Linked DNA regions of Homo sapiens. The protein of the gene in region 4 interacts with the protein of the main gene of each other region in a biochemical or structural test. Each region holds a gene or a part of one and is shown on either strand. Other genes may lie near its edges.

The links.
Region 1: the proteins of RAB4A (region 4) and KIF3B form a complex in vitro, tested with the Homo sapiens proteins (one study listed by BioGRID).
Region 2: the proteins of RAB4A (region 4) and HACE1 form a complex in vitro, tested with the Homo sapiens proteins (one study listed by BioGRID).
Region 3: the proteins of RAB4A (region 4) and GDI2 form a complex in vitro, tested with the Homo sapiens proteins (one study listed by BioGRID).

The regions. Positions count from the first base shown.
Region 1 is NC_000020.11:32,280,642-32,287,676, reverse strand, and holds part of KIF3B (kinesin-like protein KIF3B), read right to left. Parts: exon of another isoform or gene 5,804-7,035; intron 1-5,803. UniProt on the Homo sapiens protein: Microtubule-based molecular motor that transport intracellular cargos, such as vesicles, organelles and protein complexes. Uses ATP hydrolysis to generate force to bind and move along the microtubule. Plays a role in cilia formation.
Region 2 is NC_000006.12:104,856,891-104,863,844, forward strand, and holds the start of HACE1 (E3 ubiquitin-protein ligase HACE1), read right to left. Parts: upstream 3,030-6,954; 5' UTR 2,753-3,029; coding exon 2,677-2,752; intron 2,657-2,676; exon of another isoform or gene 2,489-2,656; intron 1-2,488. UniProt on the Homo sapiens protein: E3 ubiquitin-protein ligase involved in Golgi membrane fusion and regulation of small GTPases. Acts as a regulator of Golgi membrane dynamics during the cell cycle: recruited to Golgi membrane by Rab proteins and regulates postmitotic Golgi membrane fusion.
Region 3 is NC_000010.11:5,764,723-5,768,469, forward strand, and holds the end of GDI2 (rab GDP dissociation inhibitor beta), read right to left. Parts: intron 3,663-3,747; coding exon 3,491-3,662; intron 1,917-3,490; coding exon 1,772-1,916; intron 1,574-1,771; coding exon 1,519-1,573; intron 1,431-1,518; coding exon 1,284-1,430; 3' UTR 501-1,283; downstream 1-500. UniProt on the Homo sapiens protein: GDP-dissociation inhibitor preventing the GDP to GTP exchange of most Rab proteins. By keeping these small GTPases in their inactive GDP-bound form regulates intracellular membrane trafficking.
Region 4 is NC_000001.11:229,266,688-229,274,126, reverse strand, and holds the start of RAB4A (ras-related protein Rab-4A), read right to left. Parts: upstream 3,017-7,439; 5' UTR 2,788-3,016; coding exon 2,757-2,787; intron 1-2,756. UniProt on the Homo sapiens protein: The small GTPases Rab are key regulators of intracellular membrane trafficking, from the formation of transport vesicles to their fusion with membranes.

The DNA.
Region 1 (7,035 bases), on a different chromosome or scaffold from region 4:
TAGTAGTTACTACTAAACTACTAACATGTAGTAATAACTACTAAACACAAAAACACAGCAAGGCGTAGTGGCTCACACTTGTAGTCTCAGCACTTTGGGAGGCTGAGTCAGGAGCATTGCTTGAGGCCAGGAGTTGAGACCAGCCTGAGCAACATAGTGAGATCCTGCCTCCATGAAAAATTTAAAAATTAGCCACAAGTGGTGGCACGCACCTGTGGCCCTGGCTGCTTAGGAAGCTGAGGTGGAAGGACCACTTGAGCCCAGGAGCTGGAGGTTACGGTGAGCTATGATCATGCCACAGTATTCCAGCCTGGGCAACGGAGCGACACCCTATCTCAAAAATAAACAAATAAAAAAAATAGATTGGGCCTGGTGGCTCACACTTGTAATCTGAGCACTTTGGGAGGCCAAGGCAGGAGGATCGCTTGAGCCTAGGAGTTTGAGACCAGCCTGAGCAACATAGTGAGACCCTGTTTCTACAAAAATAAAATGAAACAAAAATTGAAATAAATAAGTACAAAAATATGGAAAAATGGTTATGAAATAATGTTAAGCAAACATTTCCAAATAGAAAATGGGAAATATGCTTTGAATACAACTTTCTAAAAATATACTTGCAAGTAGTCAAGTAAGCTAAAACCTGAGTTAGGATACCATCACCATGGGTAAATTCCCCAACCAAATTGTAATTCTGTCTGTCTTTTCAGCTTTAGGTTAACACTGCCATGTTAAAAACATTATTTAAGGGGGGTTGCCTTTGTAATTTAAAATTTTTAACATTAAAGGACCTAGTTTAAAGAAATCATCAGCAGTGCAGACAAAGGTTTACACAAAATAATCATCATTAAGATGTTCTCTGAAGCATTACTCATAATGTTTAAATGTTGAAAATGGCCTAAATAACAACAATGGAGGAAACAGGTGAGAACTGCAAGCCTATGAGATAAAATGTATTTAGGAATACATTTGTATATGGACAGTAAAATGTTAACAGTAGTTATTTCTCAGTGGTGGATCTTAAAGTCAGCCTTATTTAATCTGTTCAGTATTTTCCTCATTTTTTTACTCAATGGAAGTTTATTATTTTTATAATCGGAAAAAATTATATATTTTTAAAAGGCTGACAATTGAAGAATAAGGAAAAACATTACATATATTTCTTAGGCCAGAGTCTAACTTATTATTGCAGATCTTGCAAAACCAGTAACTACTTCCACCAAGGACTATCTTCTTGTGGTTATCTTTAGGTAACTTGAACTGATATTTTATCTTACCTAGATGGAATCTTTTATGATTTGCCAGCTAGATTTTTTGCTTATGTTCTGAAATGTGTTACAAAGTAATGATTACTGTAGTCTGCTAAGCTGCTAGAGATTGTGCTATGAGCTTTTAGTTTCTGTTTAATTTATGTCACACACAAAAGGCCAAGCAAGCCCTTCCTGAAAGCACTGCTGAAGGTGATATGAAGGACTCCAGAGTGGTTAAGTCCCAAGCTCCCAATAATCTATGGCAATTTCTATTTCACTTGAACCCATTTCCATTTATAGACTATATTCAAGCATGACAAAATGCAAGTGCTGCAAATGTCTTGCCAAAAACTTTAAAAATAAAAGCCACACCCACCATGATTATCACTGGTTCCCTCTCTAATGCAAATTATGAGTTAAATAAATCAGCATGCTAAAGATAGATCTTCCTGTGTGAAGAGCTCAATGTCCGCAATCAGTGTGACAAAGTGAGAAGACACAATGTGTCACCATGATTAACTGAACCTTAAACATGAACATCCCAAGCTGCTGTGCAGATGTGTGATGCTGATAAGATGAGCTGATTGTAATGCTCTCTGACTGCCAAGAAATACGCTCTAAAAGCCACACCCGAAAGGTCTGGGAGAAAGCTCAGTATGAAGTCACCAAGAAAGAACAAAATATCACCCAACTCAAGGTTCAGTCTTGTGGGCAGGGCTGGAAGGGCTTTGGGAAGAACTGTCCTATATCTTTATTTTACATATATATATGTATGCGCAAGACAGAGGCCTAGAGAGGTTGAGTCACTTGCTCCAAGTCACACAGCAAGTAGCAGAATTGATAGAATCCTGCCTTTACCCAGTTCCCACCATCCTTTCAGGTCAAAATTTCCTATAATGGCATAGTCCTCGACCAATATATCTTTCTGAGAGTCTAGAAAGACAGGAGGTGTTGAAAGGAAAATAATGAGCCCACAGGGCAGAGAGAGAAAACTGAGGCACAGTGAGATGGAATGTTTTAACAATTAGTTGGCAGGTGTTATATGGGACTTTATCCACTATCTTCTCACCCAGTGTAGATATTTATCACCAGAATCAAGAAACAGCTTAGAGCTAAATGACTCAGAATACAAGCTCACAGTTCCTACCTGCTTCAGCTGTTCGGACCCTGAAGTTAGATCACTAAGAAGTGTGAGAGGTAGCTTATCTGACCAAATGAGATATCTGTTTGCGGCCTCATCAGTCAAGTAACTGACACCCATCTAGCTCAGAAGTTTTTCCCTTGATTTTCTCAAACATTCTTTCAAGTCACTGTTTTTTTTTTTTTTTTTGGTCATCATTTAAAATTAGTTATGCAGGTATGGAAGAGAAAGGCCTTTGACAAGACAGCTAAGATGTGGTCACTGCCCACCTGAAAAACAGATGAACACGCGAATGAATGGTAGAAAGAGCAATAGACTTGGAGTCAGCAGATGTCAGGAAGTTACTGAACTTTTCTGAGCCTCTACTTTCCTCTTCTGGAAATCTGTGTTACAGGATTGGTGTGAGGTCTAAATCTAAATGAAACAACATGTGTAAAGTGCTTACAACAGTGCTTGGCTAATGTATCTTAGCTACGACTATTACCTTCATTGTCATTATCATTGGTAAGTCTTAGTTTTGCTACTGATTACCTAGGTGAGAGCATCTCAAACTTTTAATGTGCACAGGAAACATCCGGGATCTTGGTAAAAGGCAGGCTCTGATTTATTAGATCTGGGCCTTGTTATTGTTGTTGTTTTCTTCTTCTTCTTCTGTTTTTAAAAATACAGAGGAGGTCTCACTGTTTTGCCCAGGTTGGTCTCGGACTCCTGGCCTCCAGTGATCCTCCTGCCTTGACCTCCCAAAGTGCTGGGATTACAAGCGTGAGCCACTACACCCAGCCTAGATTCTGCATTTCTGACAAGGTCCTGGGGACATGGTACATCTGTCACAGAGAACACACTTTGAGCAGCAAGGATCTCCCTAACTCAGCACCTAGAAAATGCTCAATATTACTGACAAAAACAAGTGACCTCTCCACACCACAATGTCTTCATTTGTAAACCAGGGATAATATGTAGTCCAGATGATCTCAACTGATTGACAATTAGTAAATGAGAATGCACAGGAAAGAGCGTTCTAAACTGCAAAGTTATACAAATAGCAGTGGTGGCCAGGTGCTGTGGCTCATGCCTGTAATCCCAGCACTTTGGGAGGCTGAGGCAGGAAGATTGCTTGAAGCCAGGAGTTTGAGACTAGCCTGTAACATAGCAAGACCCCATCTCTACAAAAAATAAAAATTAAAAACAAAAATTTTTTTTTTTTAATTAGCTGGGTGTAGTGGCATGCACCTGTAGTCTCAGCTACTTGGATGGCTGACGTGGGAGGATCGCTTGAGCCCAGGAGTTGGAGGTTACAATGAGCTATGACTGCACCACTGCACTCCAGCCTGGGCAACAGAGTGAGACCAAGTTTTCTAAAAAAATTAGCGGCTCATGCCTGTAATCCCAGCACTTTGAGAGGCCAAGGTGAGTGGATCACTTGTGGCCAAGACGCCTGGACAATACAGTAAGACCCGTCTCTACAAATTTCTTTTTTTTGAGATGGAGTCTCACTCTGTCACCCAGGCTGGAGTGAAGTGGTACAATCTCAGCTCACTGCAACCTCCGCTTCCTAGGTTCAAGCGATTCTCCCGCCTCAGCCTCCGAAGTAGCTGGGACTACAAGCATGCACCACCACACCCGACTAATTTTTGTATTTTCAGTAGAGATGGGGTTTCCCCATGTTGGCCAGGCTGGTCTTAAACTCCTGATCTCAGGTGATCCACGTGCCTCAGCCTCCCAAAGTGCTGAGATTACAGGTGTGAGTCACCATGCCTAGCCATCTACAGAATTTTTTTTTTTTTTGAGACGGAGTCTCACTCTGTCGCCCAGGCTGGAGTGCAGTGGTGCGATCTCAGCTCACTGCAACCACCACCTCCCGGGTTCAAGCGATTCTCCTGCCTCAGCCTCCTGAGTAGCTGGGATTACAGGTGCGCACCACCACGCCCAGCTAATTTTTGTATTCTTAGTAAAGAAGGGGTTTCACCATGTTGGTCAGGCTGGTCTCAAACTCCTGACCTCGTGATCTGCACACCTCAGCCTCCCAAAGTGCTGGGATTACAGGCATAAGCCACCACACCCGTCCCCAAAACATTTTTTTTTAAATTAGCCAGGCACGACAGTACATGCCTGCGGTCCCAGCCACTCAAGAGACTGAGGTAGAAGGATCACTTGAGCCCAGGAGTTCAAGGCTGTGGGGGAGCCATGATCACACCACTGCATTCCAACCTGGGTGACAGAGGGAGTCCCTGTCTCCAAAATGAATAAATTTATTAAATTTAATTAAATAAACAAGTGGCAGTGATAAGACTATTAGTTTTACTATTCACAATGTTGAATGTACAACCCTGTAATGCCCAGATTTACAAGTACAGTTACTGGAATACATAACAATGAAGCTCGAATTCCCTTGCTCAGAAGAGATTCAAGAATCCTCTAGGAATTCTGGTAGAGTACAATAGGTTTTCCAGGGATTCTGAAGTCAAAAGCTCTGAAACTTCAGAACTGTCATTTGGTGACCAGGAAAGAACCACTTTGGCAGGGAGAATGTGGCCATTTGGCACACCAAGTGAACTTCACTAGTGATTCCGCTCCCTCTTCCAGAGCTGGCCAGGCTCCCTCAGCCAAGATCCCGAGTCAGCACTGCAATGCCAACAGCACAAGACAGAAAGACAGATGGGTACTGCCCTGGCAAAGCCCACACCTGCCGCTCCACAGGCTGGCAAAAAGCCAGACTGTAGAAAAGCAGGACTTTTTTTTTTGGTTCACAGTAAGAACGTCAAGCTTCAATCAGTTGCACCTGGCTAGCTTCTGCCAGCATAATCTGGGATTTCCTCCCCACAGACTATAAAGTATGATGCTTATACCTTGTGCCTCTCCTCTACAGGGTTCAAAATAAACTATGAATAATTCTTCCTCATAGGGCCCCTTACCAAAAAGTCCTTTCATCATTTCAGAGGCAGATGGCATCTCTAACATCTACTTAATTGCTCAGGCCAAAAACCCAGGAGTCATCCTTATTCTCTCACCCTCATCCCGCCATCCTGCTGGTTCTACCTCCGAAACACATCCCCAATCCGTCCTCTTACCATCTCCACTGCCACCAACCTAGAAAGCCACTATCTTCTCTCACCTAACCTCTTAACTAGCCTCCTGGCTGCCACTCCTATGCCCTCTAAAATTCACTGCCACAAAGAGGCCAGAGTGATTTTTTTAAAAAACAAAAATAGATCATGCCACGTCCCTTCTCCAGAACCTCCAATGATTTCCACAGCTTTTAGAACAAAATCCCAACTCATTACTCTAGCAGACAAGGTCCTGTATGATCTGAGCGCTCCCTACCACTTCCATCCCCTACATCCACCCACCTCCCCACTCTGCCTTTGACTCACCTGTCCCTGCCATTGTAAGCCTTCTTGCAGTTTCTGGAACTTACCAAGCTTGTTGCCACCTCACAGCCTTTACCCTTGCTCTTCCTTCTGACATGTCTTCAAATGGCTGGCCCGTCCCTGGGAGCAAATCTCAGCAAAAACGTCACCATCCTAGCAAGGCCTTTTCTTTTTCTTTTTGTTTGTTGGGTTTTTTTTCTTTTTGAGATGGAGTCTCGCTCTGTTGCCCAGGCTGGAGTGCAATGGCGCAACCTCGGCTTACTGCAGCCTCTGCTTCCCAGGTTCAAGCAATTCTTGTGCCTCAGCCTCCTGAATAGCTGGGACTACAGGCACGTGCCACCACACCCAGCTAAGTTTTGTATTTTTAATAGAGATGGGATTTCACCCCAGCACTTATTCCTCATCCAAATTCCCTTGTTCATTTACTGCTGTATTTTTCTGTTTGCTGCCAGTAGAATATAAGCTGCATGAGAGCAAGGGACTCTGTACCTTTCTACCATGATATCTCCAGGCTAAAACAGAACTGACACATTCTAGGTGCTCAGGAAATACTGAATAAATACAATCCGGGCAGGATAGTGGTAAGTACACTGAATTTGAAGACAGAAGACTGGATTTCAACGTGAAATGGGCCACTCAATAGCATCATGGCTTCTTGGCTTCCATTCAGATTCCTCGACTATAAAACAGAGATCCTAATCTGCACCTTACCTTCCTTGAAGGGACACAGATAAGATTAAATGAGTAAAAGCATGTGTAAGCAAGTGTAGGCATTTTTGTAAGCCATTAGGCACCTTATTGTTATTGTCAAGTATTGCTACTCTCTGTTACATAAGACGGGGTCTTTCTCAGGGACTTGCGAATTAATGGATGAAAAGGCTTAGGAAGCAATCTGAGGTTTCTAATCCAGGCACCTAACAGAAGTCTAGGGACACAACAAAACAGATTAGAATCAGTGGCTTCACTCTGCAGCCAAGGCAAACATAAGATATGAATTCATTTAAAGATGTCAAATGCAGTAATTTGCAAATTAAGCTCTGAGTTCCTCGAAGGATATGGAGATGGGATTGACCTCCACATCCTCCATGTGCCTAGCATAAGGGGATTTAGCAAATATTTACTGAATTGGATGTTGAGCTACTAAACCTAACGTCCTACCATCAGCTTTCATCTTTCTTTCTTTTTTTTTTTTTTTTTTTTTTTTTTGAGACGGAGTCTTGCTCTGTCGCCCAGGCTGGAGTGCAGTGGCGCAATCTTGGCTCACTGCAAGTTCCACCTC
Region 2 (6,954 bases), on a different chromosome or scaffold from region 4:
TCAAGGAAACATAGCATCCAACTCAGTTTATCAAACATCTATAGTTTCAACCTTTGCAACAAAATTAATTTTAGAGTACAAGCTGACTAAAAAGTTTACAAGTTTAATAGTTTGTTGTAATTAGATGCTTATTGATTACTGAATTCTAACAAAGCAAAAAAAATCTGATTATTTTCTAAATTTAGAGAGATCTCAGAGTTTCCATTCAGCTCTTAAAATGTAAGCACAAATGTGGATTTGTATCAGTAGGAATGTTATATATATATTTACATATATATATTTATTTACATATATATTTACATATATATTTACATATATATATATATATTCCTATATGTATGATATACTTTAAAGAGCCAAGCTCAGAGAATTCAAAGACTCATCAGAGCTTAGAGACAAAGATAAATTAAATTCAAGGAACAAAATGAACATTATAATCAAAGAAAAGCAAATGCAAACGATGCCATTTTTGCCTATGTGGAAAAGTTTTACTTTTACTAATAATACTCTAGTTTCTGGGCACTCTCGGACTGCTGGTGGAACTTTCCAAGGAGTAAGTTGAGAAACTGATATGTTGAGCCTTAGAAATGTATTGTAGATATTCTTCTTGTAAGAATTAACCCTAAGGAAGTATTTAGAGGCAGACTATGTCTTAAATACAAAGCTGTTTCTCATAAAATCAGTTTAAAAACAGTATTTAGATTCAACATTTGTTACATGCATCCTATGAAATTCTGAAGTCATTAAGCCTATTGAAGAATACAAAAAAAAAAAAACATTTGGGGCGGGGCACGGTGGCTCACGCCTGTAATCCCCCAGCACTTTGGGAGGCCGAGGCGGGCAGATCACGAGGTCAGGCGATCGAGACCATCCTAGCTAACACGGTGAAACCCCGTCTCTACTAAAAATACAAAAAATTAGCCGGGCCTGGTGGCAGGGGCCTGTAGTCCCAACTACTGGGAAGGCTGAGGCAGGAGAATAGCGTGAACCCCGGAGGCAGAGCTTGCAGTGAGTCGAGATGGCGCCACTGCACTCCAGCCTGGGCGACAGAGTGAGACTCCGTCTCAAAAAAAAAAAAAAAAAAGGATGTTTTCTAAACACAAAATAAAAGACTATATGCAACATGATTTTAACTTGTTAGGGAGGGAAAAAGAAATAACAATGGTAACACTGTTTATAACTGGATGGTGAAATGACATATTTTTTTCTATTTTTCTTTATTTTCCAAATTTTCTACAATGAAACTATATTACTTTTAAAACCAAGTAACATTATCAAAGTCTTCTAAATCACATTTATGTAAAAAATATCGGGATTCAAACTAGACAATATAAATTATACATGTAGTCTTCATAAAGCTATACCAATAATTCGACTACGAAAAATAAGTAAGAGTAGCACTTAAGAAATGGATTCAAAGGTGGAAGTTGGAAAGAAAATATAGAAAAAGTTGAAGCTAGAATCTAGTTACCAAAATCTGAATTCTAAATAGAGACTAGAGACCATTTTTTCAAGAAGATTATCCCCAGGCCAGGCGCGGTGGCTCACATCTGTAATCCCAACACTTTGGGGGGAGCAGGGTGCGGATCACTTGAGCCCAGGAGTTCAAGACCAGCCTGGGGAACATAGTGAGACCTCATCTCTATAAAAGAAAGGAAAGAAAATTATCGCCAAAGTACCCAATCCCACATTTCTTTCATGACCGTCTGCCAAGGTCTCCTTCCCTATCCTACAAACCACCCAGCAGCAATTCAAAGAGAGTTTTGAAAAAGTAAGATAAACTACTACAATTAAGAAAAAAGCTATTCACCAGCTACAACCTCCTCCCAACCCTTCTCTCACTTGGGCATAAAGAGCCAAAAGCTTCTTAGAAGCAGCACTGCTGTCTCCCATCACCACTAAAATGTCTGAATTCCTGACGCTGCAAACAAAACTGCTTATTTTCTCTCCTTGTTATTAGCAGAGTTTTACCTGTCCTGAGGGAACCCTGGCACGCTGAACTAAAAGTCCTGATCCTCAGGGACCATGCCTTATTCCTCTTTGCAGATGCGTCCTAGTTACCAGCTAGCCCACTCAATACTAGTCTGATGAATAAATGAAGAATGAAGGCAGGCATGCATATTAAAGAAAAATATATTGTGTTTACCCATACAGTACTTTAAGAGTACCTGTTTGATGTTTGACAACCCTTTGTTTGCCTGTTATCAAAACAAGGCAGTGCCCCACATTTTAAAAAATAACAAAAATAAAAGCCCGCCTGGCCCCCCGATGCAGCTTAAAGTAAACAGTATCTTTGGATCATCTCTATCCCCAGCTACTGTTAAATGACCCGCAATTATGATGTTTTCTGACTCCGGGTCTCGGGCCTCCGGCTGGTATTCCTGCCCCTTTGCCAAGACCCCTAATCGACAGACGTTGCGAGACCTTTGTCTCGCTCCTCCCAGCAGCGGAACCCCCACCAACCCAGTTTCCTCCCGAAAACTCCCACCTGCCGGGGTGGGAGCGTCGGGCCAGGGGAGTTCGGGGCCCGGGGCCGCCTCTCAGCTCTGGAAAGTAAAAGTGGGCGTTTTCTCAGCTTTCAGTTAGTTTTTCCACCCGACCTTGACGCGGCCGGAGCTCCTGCCCCACTGGCCGCCCCCAGCCCCGCGGCCAGCCTGGCCCCGCGACCCGGCTCACCCTCGGGCAACTCCACGGTGCGCGCGCGGCGCAGCGAGCGCGTCAGGCGGTTGAGTTGCTCCATCGCTCTCTCCATCCTCGGCGCGCCCTCCGCGATCCTCCGCGATCAGCCGCCCCACCGGCGGCCTCCGCGCCCAGAGCCCTACATCTCGCCTGGGCCCGTCCAGCAGGCGGAGACGCGGGCTTGCCCCGGCTAGAGCACTGAGCTGCGAGGGCTGCCTGGGGCCACGTCCTGCGTCCGGGGGCCGGGCTGCTGCCGGACCGACCACCTACAGTACACCCGCCGCCGCCTCTGCTCGCGCCTTTCCTGCAGCCCCCGCCGCCGCGTCCCTCCCGGGCTCGCGTGGCCTTCTGGGAACTGTAGTTTCCAGCTGGCAGAACGGAGCGCCCTGGGCGGAGTCACGTTGGGGGCGCCCAGGCCACGCCAACGCGGGCGCAGGGCTGAGTATGCGGGAAGCCACGCAGCGACTGGGCGTACTCCTAAGCTTCTGGAAAGGCATTCTCACGCCCTGCTCCTCCTACCCTCCTCCAAAGTTGTACAGGAGCAGTTTCCTCCAATTCTATAACTTTACTATAAAACAGATTAGAAATTGGCACAATTGTTCTTAAATCCGTCACCACCTTTCTAGTACTGTATTAGTGCCTTTGTTTCAGGTACCCTACATGAACTGTTTTAAGTATGGTATTTTCATATGTCAAACTTAAAGAGTAATAAAATCAAACAAATCCAAAAGCATATTGTGCTTTTGTCTTCATTGTAAATAACTTGACAATAGCTTAATTAGTTGTTTTTCCTGCCGGGCGGCTTTATGAGGGCAGGGACATTTAATCTTGAACTGTGTTGTATCCCTGTACTTAACAAGGCACCTAGCACAAAGTTAAAGCTCTGGGGAAGATATGAATGATGACAACCTGAAAAAATTTTTTCATTTATTTGGTACAATGCTAAAGTGTCTATGTGATGACACAGCCTAGTGGGAAATCCAAAGGATTTGACTTTGTAAGTTACAAAAAATTTGGATACCTACATTGTGGAAGAAATGAACTCAGTGGCGAAAAATCATATTCATAAGCTCTGCACAGAAGTTGAACACTTGAAACAACAGAAGTTGGAACTTCAAAAAATTAACCCAATCAAAGGGGTAAATGTGAGCCTGGCTAACACCAATATATCTTGGATATATTACCAGTGCCAAGATGATGCTGGAGTGAGGGAGAAACAAAAGGCTTGTCTTTTTCAGCTTCTCTTCCTCAAAGAGACAAAGCTGTTCCTGAAATGAATGGGCACATGTACGTTGATGATGTATGTTGGCTGGCCAAGTGAAAGAGAGTCTCACCTGCCCATTCAGGATATGAAGGGGCAGATGGTGGTTGGCATGTGTTTTCCCTGCCAGTGCCGTCCTAAATCAGTTCCAGCTAGTGACCATTTGTGCCAGTGGTGCCACAGGCACGGGGAAGACCTCTGTAATCTTCACCTAATCAGATGATACCTAAACCAGTCTGGCAACAAGGTGGTAGAGGTCAAAGTTTCAAAAGAATACCAGAGGCTGGGCGCAGTGGCTCATGCCTGTAATCCCAGCACTTTGTGAGGCCAAGGCAGGCGGATCACTTGAGGTCAGGAGTTTGAGACCAGCCTGGCCAACATGGTAAAACCCTGTCTCTACTAAAAATATGTATATACAAAAATTAGCCGGGCGTGGTGGTGTGCCTCTGAAATCCCAGCTACTCGGGAGGCTTAGGCAGGAGAATCGCTTGAACCCGAGAGACAGAGGCTGCAGTGAGCTGAGATCCTGCCATTGCACTCCAGCCTGGGTGACAGAGCGAGACCCTGTCTCAAAAAAAAAGGAAAGGAAGAAAGAAATACCAGACGTTATGGACCAGTCTAGCCCAGGCTCAACCATTTGCAACCTGGCTTCAACTAAAAATGTTCCAGTCTTGCTTGGCCTCTTATGCTATTCAAAAAGTCAGGATTCCCACTGCTGTACAGAAGTTGGCCCCTCAGCTTCTCTCAGCTGCTGTTATCACCATTGCTCTCTAGGCTGTTGCTCCATATAAATTACCTCCAACGTCCTGTGAGGACCAAGCCTGGAGTTTGTGGGCAGGGGTAGGAGCCCCCAGCAGCCTCCATGGTGGGCATTGCATCTCATGCTGGTCACTGTTCACCACAGGAGCAGAAGATAATGGAACAGGTAATGCTGATGTGAATTGTCAGTTCCAAATTCTGCAATATGATGCCGTCTCCCAATAGCTCTGCTTCAAAATGTATAAAGCTGCAGTACTACTATCAGCTTATCACCTCCTGTCCAACAGAACTTTCTGCAATGATAGAAATATTCTATAATCTGCAATGTCCAAAATAGCATCCACTAACCAAATGGGGTTACTGGGTGCTTGAAATGTGGCTGGTGCAACTGAATTTTAAATTTGTATTAAAGTATAAGTAATGAAACTAATTAAGTTAAATAGCTGTATGTGCCTTGTGGTTACCGTATTAGACAGGGCAACTTATCACACCAAGAAGAAAGCTGCCCAGGAGAACACCAAAACAGCTAAACAGCTTCTTATAGATTATTATTAGCTAAAGAGTAGATTTTCTCACCTGTCACCAACACCAAAAACATCAAGTGGAAGTTTCAAAAGGGCACTTTGTATCATAAGTTCCATTAACAAAAGCGTAGAGTTTTTCACTAATGATAACCCAGGTTCTTCTGTGGCCCAGACAGTTTCAACTTTCTTTTTTGTATATCTGGTATTTTTTTCTTCCTGGAAATTGGTTTTATTGAAGATTCCCAAGCATTAAGGGAAAGAGAAGAGAAAAACAATCTGTTCAACAAAAGGCAGGAAATGGGTGGGAAGCAAAGAAAAATGGTCATAAAAACAAAACATAAAGTAGCAGTAGAAATAAATCTAAATATATCCATGGTCACAGAAAATATAAACAGAGTAAACTCAATGTTTACTCTAAAACATAGAGGTCTTAGATAGTGTGTTAAAGAAAAATAAAAATGGAGGCCACAGTTTAGATATACCCAAGTCCAACTGTGTATAACCACAAACCAAAACTCATCATCCTCATTTCCCCAAAACACCATCTGTAATAATAAACACAAAACGCAAGGTTTATATCCTTGTCAGCATGATTCAGTGAAACTAAGCCAATCAGCTATAGACAAATCAGCTTAAATAGTTTCCCTAAAAAAATTAATGTATAACAGACAATCATGAAAAAAGGCCAAAGTACTTCATCTTTACGCTTTATAAACTGTACGGGAAATGCAGTAAGGCAAGCTTCTCAACACTGACTCAAAATATCCTGGATCGCAATTTGTACTTGATCTGATTTATTTCTTACATCTGAAAAGATCAAATAAAACAGCTATTTGCTGTTTCTAAGGGACCACCATTTCCAAAAGGAAATGGAAAAAAGGGATACCATAGAAAATATTAGCCAAATAAATGTGATATAAAAATATATCAGGGTTCTCTAGAGAAACAGAACCAGTAGAATGTGTGTATATATATGGAGAGAGAAAGAGATTTATTATCAGAAATTGACTCACGTGATTATGGAAGCTAGCAAATCCAAAATCTACAGTTTGGACCAGCGGTCTCAATACCCAAGAGACCTGATGATGCCATTCCAGTCAAAGGCCAGGGCAGCTAGTAAGACAGATGAAGTCTGGAGGCAGTCTGCTGAAAAATTCCCTCTTGCTGTTTCTTCTATTCAGGCCTTCAGCTGATTGGATGAAGCCCACCCATATTATGGAGAGCAATCTGCTTTAACCAATTTAAATGTTCATCTCTTCCAAAAACACCCTCCAAGTTGGCACAGAAAATTAACTATCATGAACAATATTAATATCAGCAAAATAAATTTTAAAGGAAAAAACATTATTAGAGTCAAAGAGAGTTACCAGAAAGTTTATACTAGTCCTGAACCTACACCTAAAGACATAGACTAAAAATAAAGCTACACTTGACAGAATTACAAGTATAAGTTCCACACCATGGTGCTAGATTTTTCACACCCTTCGCTCTGAAACGAATAAAGCTAGCAGAAAAAGACAGTTAAAGATACAGAAGATTAAAAAACTTCAACTACAAGTCTCATTAAAGGGCACGTGTGAACATTCACTTCACTACTAATGAAGAGGGAATACACATCCTTTTAAAGCACATATATTACAGTTACAAAAATACAACGCATCCGAGTGCCCTTCTTCAGAGCAGTGTCACTGAGGTGGCAACTAGGAAGACCATGGCCAAAGCCAGGGTAGG
Region 3 (3,747 bases), on a different chromosome or scaffold from region 4:
AATATGAATAACAATCTAAATCACCACCCTAGTTCCTTTAACACATCATCTACCTTAGTCTGTCTCCTTCATACTCTGAAGAGTCAGTGTTTATCTGTGGTAAACAACAGCATCTGCCGTGAGGCTCATCACTGTCAGGGGAAAGGGCCTTATATGTAAACACTTTATCATTTCAACTACACAAAAATTATTTACTAAAGCACCTACTCTACCTGACAGTTCACTTACTCCCTTATAACTGCTGCTACAAGCAAAATCATTAAACACTATTTTTTCTGCACAAAGATGATAGGTCTAGTAATGGTACTGTGTCAAGAATAAAACTCGAGGTCTACTCACAGGGAAGCCAGACGACAGGACCTGCTGTGATCCTTCCAGATCAGAAGACACCCACGCTTTCCGCTGCTGAGCATTCTGACTGGCATTGACTCCAGTGCTACCAAAGGAAGCACGGCAGCTGTGACCCTTGCAATCAGGACACACAAACCAACACCGGGCAGTAGTTTCCAGAATTTGGCTTTATTTTGCAGTACAGAAATCATTTGGAGCCATTTTGAGACAGAAGTAGAGGCTCTGTCAAGTCAATACTGCATTGCAGCTTGGTCCACTGAAGAAGCCACGCCTGAGATACAAAAGATGCACTACACTTGACCCGCTTTATGTTCGCTTCCTCTCCCCTTCTCTCTCATCAACTTTATTAGGTTAAAACACCACATACAGGCTTTCTCCAAATGACTCCCTATGTCTGGGGTTTGGTTAGAATTTTATGCCCACATAAACCAAACTTGTGGCTATGCTATTTGGGCCCTGCCATAACATTTGACATAATACAAAATATAAAGTCATAGGGAAAACTTCCGGATGCTGTCCCAAACCGTGGAATATTCAATTTAGAATCTCCTGAACCTCAAGAGGACAGATGACACACAACCTGTATGGATCCAGCTCTTGAGCAGCAGCAGCACATAGCTACACTGATTAAAAGATTAAAAAAACTGTCTCAAGTTGTCTGTGTCGGTATCCCAATGTTTGTTTAACTTCACTAGAAAAAAAAAAAGCCAGTTTGGTTAAATTGAACAGAATGTGGTAACTGCCAATGCTGAATAGCCACTCCATGAAAACAAGTTAATAATTAGAAAGGTGAAGGGGAGTATTTACTGGCACAGCGCTCTTCATTCTCTCCATTTTCATTACAAAAGCAGGCCTTACAATATTGATTTCATTATATGCATTATTTGCCAAATTTTAAATGTGTCCTAATTACATAATAACATGTACTGCTGTTAGTCTTCCCCATAGATGTCATTCTTCTTGCGCTTCATTTCCTCAAAGTCAAACTCTGATCCTGTCATCCTCTTATAGATGTTTTTAATGTCATCACACGTTGTCTCAAAATGAGTGGTGGCATCATATGTGCGGGAAATAAAGATCTGAAAACAAAAATTACGAAGACTTAAGACCATGGAGGGATGTCTTCCAGTGAAACCTGCCCATATCCTTTCACACTTCCATACTCACCTGGCTTTCTGTTCCCAAGTCTTTTGGTACCAGGAGGTCACTGATGCTAACAAATCTGGAGGGAGAGAGAATTCAGTCAGGTGAGCTGGTCCCACACCTGACCATGGCTCTGCCTGAGGTCAACTGAGAGGTACAGATGAATCCCACAGAGCAGCCAGCAGCTACCTGCCTTGCCCTCACATTCGTCCCACCATGGAGCCACAATCAAAGGCCTCAGTTTGCATCTCGGCAGATATAAAAGAACACAACTCACTTCTGTTCAATTGGTTCCAAGAGCTCCAAAGCTGGTCTGATTTCCTTCTCAGGCTCCTTGGTTTCCACAGTTGTACTAACTATAGCAATGTACTTCCCTTGTGCTGCTACATTGTGCGCAAAGGAGATCATGCAGACGTAGATATCTAGAAACAAATGATACCAGCTCACTGCCTCAAGTGTCTCCATCTGGGACCCAACATACTCAGGTATCACCCATATGTCATGAGGTGTGAGTTAAAATTACTCTCAATAGGCAAGATCTTCTACACTTAAGTTCTAAATGGTGACAGAGTTGGATGTAAAGTACACAGATATTTAACAATAGGAATTTCTTTTAACCTACTAGAGATTAAGAATTGAAGTGGTAGCGAACTGCTGAAGTTTGGAATGAGATCTCTTAACAGCTCTGTCATACCTAACTAAAAAACCTGCCAAACCATATTAACTATTCTGGGAGATTCTTCCATTCTGGACCTTGCATTTAGAAAGGTTCTGAATGGCTAAGAAAGGATGTACTTAGTACTGACGTCCTCATTTACTTATTACAGTAATGTAAAACTGCAGAATCCACATAAACCACTTTTGAGTTGGCATAACGATAGAATTCTCGATTAGACTTGGTCTGTATACCACTCATCCAGTTAACTGTGTCATTTCCAGGATAGAAAATCATTTGGATAGGAGAGCATTTAAAGGCCAAAAAAAAAAAACTCTGGGACCTCCTTTATTCTTTTCAGACTTGCAAGGACCCAGGACCCGCCTGGGAACCTTGTGGAAGATTAAGTCCAGTCCCTTTGTTCTACAGATCATCTTTTGTGATTGGTTTTTTTTTGTGTTTTAACAGTCTGGCTCTGTCACCCAGGTTGGAGACAGGGATGCAATCACAGCTTACAGTAACCTCAAACTCCTGAGCTCAAGTGATCCTCTCCCACCGCAGCCTCCCAAGTAGCTAGGACTACAGGTGTGTGCCACCACACCTAGCCATTTTTGTTTGTTTGTTTTTTGTTTTTGTAGAGACGAGCTCTCACTATGTTACCCAGGCTGGTCTTGAACCCCTGGCCTCAAGCAAGCCTCCTGCCTTGGCCTCCCATGATTTCATTTCTTATATGGGGGAAAAAAAATCATTATACAGATAGCTCTTACCTGTCCCATAAAGCCTGATTACCCTTTTTAAGCTGAATTTTAGATAAATAAAAAGATTTGGGGCTTCTAGTTGAAAGGAAAATGGGAACATCGAAGGGTTACAAACAACTGGCTAAGACAAATAAGTTAGGACTTGCAATTTTAGAGCCATGTCCTGATCACAGAAATGAAAGGTGGACACTGCTAGAATCAAATGTAGGTACTAGGATTACAAATAAGGACACAGAAGCAGCTATGTCATTAGCTCAAGAATATACTCGGGTCAGTTAACTATTAAGCATAAACCTCCACAGGAACCTACTGTTAGTTAGAGCTGGGAGACGCAGGGTTCACCAAGCCCAGTCTGTTCATTCTACAGGTGATGGACACAAGTCCAAGGCTGGCTCCGAGTTGAATCTGTCCGCGTTGACACAATGCTGCCGGAGCAGGAGGAGGTACAAAGATTTTTTTCCCCCATATGTAAACCAAGGTCTGTTCACTAATACAGCATACAAAATTAGGAATTTGGGATAAAACACAAAGCAAATTATATCTTACAAAATTCTACCAACATCTGCTGGTCTTCAAACCTCACCTGACTTTCGATTGACTTGGTTCTGTGGAATAATGATCTGGCAGGAGTTGGCATCATTGGTGTTCTTGATGGGGTGGCTGAGGATGCAAATAACTCTGATCACCTGGCCCACTTTTTCTACCCGATCTTTTACGTAGCTGGGGTCACAGATGAGCTGCTTACAGCGAGCAATCTATAACAAAGCATTTAAGAAGACACTGAAGCGGACAAGGATATAGGGAAACACATCCCATGTTCATAGTTTGGAAGACTTAGTA
Region 4 (7,439 bases):
GAGCCGTGATTGTGTCACTGCACTCCAGCATGGGTGACAGAGCGAGGTCCTGTCTCAAAAAAAAAAAAAAAAAAAAAGGGAAACAAAAACCCAGTACATTTCATTCCTCATCTCTCTGTCAAGCTACACAGAGCCTCCTTTTACAGAAGAGCAAATAAGCACAGAGTACAAAGGAGTTTAAAGGTTAGGCAAACATTCCTTCACCAGCTCAGAGGCAAATGTCCAGAAGAGAGCCTGACTGTTTCACTTTTAAGGAACAATGCTGTATAAATATGGCCACTGATACGTCAAAGTGACAGCCTAGGACTTGGTTCTAGGTGACTTTTACTTCAGCTTGGCAAACTTCAACTGTCCTGCTTGCTCCTTCTAAAACTCATTTTCTTTTTTTGAGACAGAGTCTCACTCTGTTGCCCAGGATGGAGTGCAGTGGCACAATCTTGGCTCACTGTAAACTTCACCTCCTGGGTTCAAGCAATTCTCATGCCTCAGCCTCCCAAGTAGCCGGGACTACAAGCGTACCACCATGCCCAGGTAATTTTTTGTATTTTTAATAGGGCTGGGGTTTCGCCATGTTGGCCAGGCTGGTATTGAACTCCTGAGCTCAAGTGATCCGCCCAACTCGGCCTTCCAAAGTGCTGGGATTACAGGCGTGAGCCATCACCTCTGGCCTCATTTTCTATTTATTAGTTTCTACTAGTTTTCGATTAATTTCCTCTATTAGAAGAAAAGATTCAATTCAGAGTTGCAAAGTAAAAACATACTTGGAAGTTACCATGAAATAAGAATACTAATGGTCAAAGCCTTATGATCAGAATGTAATCAATCTGTGAAGCTCAAAAGTTCAGTTAACTGTGTCTGAAGTGGAGATGCCAAAGATAAGCTCTATTTTATCAGTTGTTATCATGCGTATACGAAAAATGAAACATAAAAGCTCTATCTCCTGAACTCTTCCAATCCTTTCTTACTGATTCATGACCCCCACTTGCTTTTCTTATTTGGACATTCCACCCTTCCCCTAGTGCTCCGTGCTCCTTACTCAGGTTAAAGAAACTAAGCCTGGGCTAAAGAGCACTTGAAAATAAAGAAGTGCAAAGATGTAACCAAAAATTGCTAAAGACCATGTTTTCCTTACAACATTTCTGACTGTGGTTCTCTACAGGAAGAACCAGACCACTGCCATTTGCAGAAACATTTGCAAACACTTGTCCTGATGAAGGCATCGACTTACTGGAGGATTTCCTACGCCTTCTAGGAACAGATGTCATGCCCCTTTGTCACCAAGAACAGGGCAGTACCAGTCACAGGAGTCACTCACTGAAGGTGGACCAAATGCACTGTGACCCCAGCATGGAAGCCCTTCCAAAAGTTCCCATTTTTTCTTACAAGACAAACTGACGCCTTCCTCAAGACCCTCTCCTCTCTGCCTCCTCATCCACCTCTCCAGCGTGGTACTCAAAACACACCCTTCTTGAGTTACCCTTCCCACAGGCCTGAGATGTTCTGCGTGCTGCCTGGTTAATGCCTCCCTGACACCCCTGTCTGGGTCATCTTTCTTTCTAACACACTTTCACGGACCACACTCCTTCAGAACTCTTGCCTGGTTTTTAATTATTCACTCATTAGTATCACAATTGGATTAATACTGCATTCCCTCAATAGACTACGCTCCATGAGACCAGAGCCGTGTCTGCTGTGTTTCTGCAGGATGTACAGCCCTCCCAGCACGGTGCTCGCTTCCCTAATGCCATTCCACAGTATTTGTTGCAGAGAAGGAAGCAGCATGCCAGGACAGATGGAGACAGGACTAATTTGGCTTGAGGTATGTAATTTTGAACTTGAGCCTCTCTCTGGGACTGTAAAACTCCAAATCAAAGTCTTAATCTGAGAATACATACATCTGAAAGAGTGATTAGGGACTGGTAAACATCTATTAATATTCAACTCTGATACAAAGTACAAGTTGTTTATTCTTACCACGCAAGGCCAAAAAAGGGGAGAAAAAAAAAAAAGCACACAGCATATGCACTGGGAAAGCTTTCGCTTATTCAAAACAGTATTTGTCAAGCACCTCCAGGTCTGGGTGCTGCAGGGGAAACAAAGATTAAACAGCCAGGGCTTTGCTTCCAAGGTGCTTACGGTCTTAAGAAGGAGACAAGACATGTTTATAAATAGCCAAAATGCAACCCAGAAAAGGCTAAAAAACACTGAGAGGGAGGGAGAAATAAACGAAGCAAGAGGTCTCCGGAGGAAGAGATGAATGAATTAGCCTATTAATAACTCCTCACTGTAATCCCAATGTAAAGCAAGGAATTCCAAACCAGGAAAGGTCAAACTGAAGTATTTGAGGAACACAGGCGTCGCCCTAAGCCCTTCACAGGCTCGCTGGGGATAATATCGCAGCTGAAACCGAACATCAAGCTGGCTTTTCAAACCTTCAGTTATTTACATTAGACTGAGAGGGGAAAAGCGCTAAGAGTGCAAGAGCAGAGAAAGAGCAAGAGGAAACTTGAAAAGGCGGATCACGCCAATGCGCTGTGCACAGCGCCCCCGCGCCCCGCGCACCCGCTACCCCACCCGAGCCCCCAGCGGCCCGCGTCCCCCATCCCGGTCCCAAGCCCAGACACCTCCGAGATCCGTCCCCCGGCTCCGGCCGGCGCCACCGCCACCCTCAAGACCCCCGCAGCCCAGGCCCGGCCCCGCGCCACCGACGCCCCCCGCGGCCCGACCCGCGCGCCCCGCCAGCCCGGGCCTCGTACCGTAGGTTTCGGACATGGCCGTCTGCGACATCTTGGGAGCGGCGCCGCCTCTCGCCGGGTCACCGGCTGCACTCGCCCGCGGTCCGCCGGCGCGTCTCGGTGGGGAAGGACCTGGGGCGGGGGACCGGAGGAGGGAGGGGCCCGACCGGTCCCCACGGCAACCGCCGGTCTCCCAGCGGCTGCGGCCCAGCCGGACTCCAGCTCCGCGCAGGCGCAGGGCCCTCCACCCTCCGTCCGGCCGCGACCGCGAGGAGGAAGAGGAGATGGGCTACGCGAGGCCCGGCCCACCCCGCGTTCGCGCGTGCGCACGGGGAGGCCGGGGCGGGGCGCGTGAGGACTTCGGCGCGCGCCGGAAGCACGTGCGCGGGCTGGGCGCTCTGGCGGTGTGCGCTGAGGTGGGCAGAGCGGCAGGTGGGGGCGTTGGGGGCTGAGTCCCGATTTCCCTGAGGGAGGGTCGGGTAGAGGCGGGCGGTGGGCAGGTTTGGGGGTGACAGAGGGCTGGGGACAGTGGGGTCCAGTTGCCGGACAGAGGAGGAAGGTGCCCGCACTGGGGAGGAAAGCAGTCCATTTGCCAAATTGGCCCGTCTCAGTTAAGACGTTGTCTTCGGTCATCATCTGCGGCTGTCAGCCAGGAAAAAACTTCCCTGACGCTGTTACGATGGAGGCCAGAACTTGGTTAATGTGTAACAAGGAGGCAGTAGGCCCCAGGTGTCCAGCCAGAGGCCGCCCTGTGAATGGGAGGCAGGTTCATTTACCCGTTGGGAAGCTAAGCTTTCACTCCAAACTGCCGGGCCCTCTTGGATGGAGCTGAGCGGGTGTGGGCGGAATGACAGAAGCGCAAGATGCCCAGGTGCTAAAAGGTCATCGCAAGACTACAGGCTGCAGCCTCTCCACATCCCATTTTAGAGGGTTCTGGATTACGGTTGAGAAGTATCTCCCGGCCCTCAGCTGGGGATGTGTTTCCAAATTTAGGAGTTTTTTTAATTTTTATTTTTTAACAGGGTCTGGCACTGTCAGCCCAGCCCAACCGATTCTCCTGCCTCAGCCTCCTGAGTAGCTGGGGCTAGGGGCTCACACGACCACACCGCGCCAATTTTTAAATTTTTTGTAGAGATGGGGTCTTGTTATGTTGCCCAGGCTGGTCTTGAACTCCTGAGTTCAAGCATCCTCCCTCCTTGGCCTCCCAAATTGCTGGGATTACAGGCATGAGTCATCTCACCTGGCCTTGGATAGTTTGGTTTCAGAAGCAAAACTGAGTTAGAATCCCCTTCTGTGGGAAATGTAGAGATAAACATTTATGGGAAAGAGAATTTTGGTTGAGGATTTGGCCCATCTGAGCTTGATCAGGGCCACATAGCGCCTCATAGTTCCCAACCTTGTTCACAATAGGTAGTCGAATGCTCAAAATATCCTTGGCTAAGCTCCCAAGTGACCTGGACTGTGTGGAAAATGCCAGTACATACTTTTGTGTGTGTGTGTGTGAGTCAGTTTGGCTCCATCCTCCACATAAATTGGCATCAGAGCTTCCCTCTTCCCCAGTGGCTATTTGGGTCGGTATTTTTCTCTTGTCTCCGATCCTAATAACAAATAAATGCAGTTTTTTCTAAATCACAGAGAAGGCCCCATGGTGAAAAGTTGTGACAGCTGTAATTCCTAAAACTGTTTTATATATATTTCTTGTTCAGTGGCTCAGATCATTTGTTGCTTTCTTGTTTGTCTCTCTGCATGTCGTGTTTGATTTAGGCTCCTGAGTATAACAGATTGGTTCTGATTAAAACCATTTCAGAGGAAAGACAGTGATCCCAGGAAGCGGGAAGAAAACAGCATCACCTGAAGTTATTCCTATTCGTTAGATTTGTTTTCTTCCTGCGAAAAACTGCTATGTACAAGAAAGAAGTCAGTGAGCTGCAGTGATAGTTAGCATTATTGACTGAAACTGGACCAGAGATCCCTGAAACCTGGACAAGGTGGTAGAAATACAAATTATGCTGCCATTTCAAAGCTGTGGGCAGTTTTCTACTTTGTGGAAAATGAAGACTTAGGTAGGCCTTTGGGAAAGACGATTTGTTTTGGAAAAACCACCCAAAGGGATCATTTGGTTTGCAAATGTAACTGCAGTATCACAACTGGAAGAAGAAATATACAAGGGCGAGGTTTGAAGGAGCCCTTCAGTATCCTTGGATGATACTGTGGAAGATTCTTTGCATCTCAGTAACTTTGGATCTTTGAAGATCCAAGAAAATAAATTTCTTCAAAATATTTTTAGAGACTGCTTTGATTCTGAGGCACTGCTGATTATATGGAAGAAAAAAATATTGGAAGATTAATTTGTGGTTTTCTCCAGTTATCGTCTCCCTTCTCTTTGGGGGAGGTTTGTGACGCAGTAAAAACAGATATACAAAAGCCTAGGCATGTTAGAGATTTGCCTAAGGGAAATGTAATTATGAAGAAGGATTTTTTCAAGCTGAAACTAGATCCCACTTTTTTCCAGGTCAGTGGGTCCTTCAAGTATCTGGTACTTTCCTTCCTGCTTCCTGACAATGTTAAAGAATGTGGCATGACCTTACATTTAATGCCCAACGTGAGGAGCCCTGGGGCTTGATGCATGAGATTCTTGGAGCTAGGCCTGGTGGAGGGCACTGGTCACAGCCTCGGTGGAATGGTGACTTTCTTTGGTAACTGGAATTGAAGAAAATGAGTGGACTTGTGTCTGAGCACTTGGGAACTCAGCAATCCCTGGGTGTTACCTTGAGAAGGAGCCAAATTCCAGACATACAAGTGGAGACTTGAAAATGGAAGCTCAATTCCACACCCAGGCTGGTGGAGACTATGACATATAACTCACATCTTCAAGAAAGTAGACACCTCAGAGGTCACTGGGCCACTTTACCTTCCACTGTCAAAACTATGTCCATGATCAGATACCTCTGTTGCTAGGGAATATTCAGTCAGAATGGGCTAGATTAACTGCAGTAATGCAGATCTCTCAACCCATTTATGACTTACGCAGCAAAGTTCCTCGCTCAGACTACCTGTCCACTCCCACGAGCAGAGACTTGCTCATGGGCCCTCCTAGACCCAGGCTGACCGAGTGTGTTTTATCTAAATGCATCTCCACAATCACTCAGGTAGGAGTGGCTATGCATTAGGACTGATTGTGCATTAGTTAGAGAAGCACTTACCAGGAATTGCTATAAGAACTTCTATTTACATTTCATGGGCCAAAGCAAGTCATGTGGCAACACTTAATTTCAAAGAGGACAGGAAATGCAATATTGTTATGTCCCTGAAAGAAAGGAGAAGAGAAAGTCTATGGAAAGACATTATGACTACCACTGGAATTTTCACCTGTCCAGGCAGCTCATCGTGCTTTTATTTGAAACAATTTTATTGAAGTATAGGCATAACTGCACATACGTATGTATTTATTTTATTTTATTTTTTGAGATGTAGTCTTGCTTTGTTGCACAGGCTGGAATGCAGTGGCGTGATCTCAGCTCACTATGACCTCTGCCTCCCGGGTTCAAGTGATTCTCCTGCCTCAGACTTCTGAGTAGCTGGGATTACAGCCACGCGCCACCACACCTGGCTAATTTTTGTATTTTTAGTAGAGACGGGGTTTCGCCTTGTTGGCTGTGCTGGTCTCAAACTCCTGACCTCAGGTAATCCGCCTGCCTCAGCCTCCCAAAGTGCTGGGCAGCCTCCCAAAGTGCTGGGATTACAGGCGTGAGCCACCGCACCTGGCCTGCACATATTTAAAGTGTACATTTTGACAATTTTTAATATATATGTACGCTTGTGCTTGCTGCTCCAGGGGACCGCTATTTCTAGGCCTTTTCAGTGGACAGAGGCATTTTTGTGATTGTTTTATCTCATTTGTCACTTAGGAAGAATAACTTCTTGTGAGGTTTAGTGGTGGTTTTGGGGTTGATAGTATAGGTCTTCATCACAGTCCACCTCCAAGTGATAATACACTACTTTATACAGAGTATAAGAAACTGACAACCATTTGCTTCCATCCTCCCCCAGCATCTGTGCTGGGGATGTTGTACTTCTACATATGTTGTACACCCACATACATTGTTATTGTTTTTACTTAATAAGCTACTAATTCTCTGTCTCTCTTTTCCTTTTAATTGTGGTAAAATAGACATAAAATGTAGCAACTCAGCCATCTTGAAATGTACAGTGGCATTAAATATATTCCCATTGTTGTGCAACCATCACCACCATCCATCTCTAGAACGCTTCATGTTGCAAACCTGAAACTCTGTACCTGTTTAACAACAACTCCCCATTCACTTCTCCCCACAGTGCCTGGCAACCACCATTTTACTTCCTGTCTAGGAATTGGCTTCTCTAGGTACAGTACCTCATATAAATGGAGTCATACAGTATTTGTCTTTTCCTCACTGTCGTATTTCACTTAGCATAATGTCCTCAAGATTCATCTGTAACATTGTAGAATGTGTCAGAATTTCCTTCCTGTTTAAGACTGAATACTATTCAATACTTTGTACATATATACTGCATTTTCAGCCAATTCTTTTCAATAGATTTAAACAATAAGAAAAAAGTGTTTTATATTTACTCACATAGTTACCATATCTAAGACTCCTTATTCTCTTGTATAGATTAGATTTCCATGGTCTCATTTCCCTTTTGTCTGAAGGGCTTTCCTTG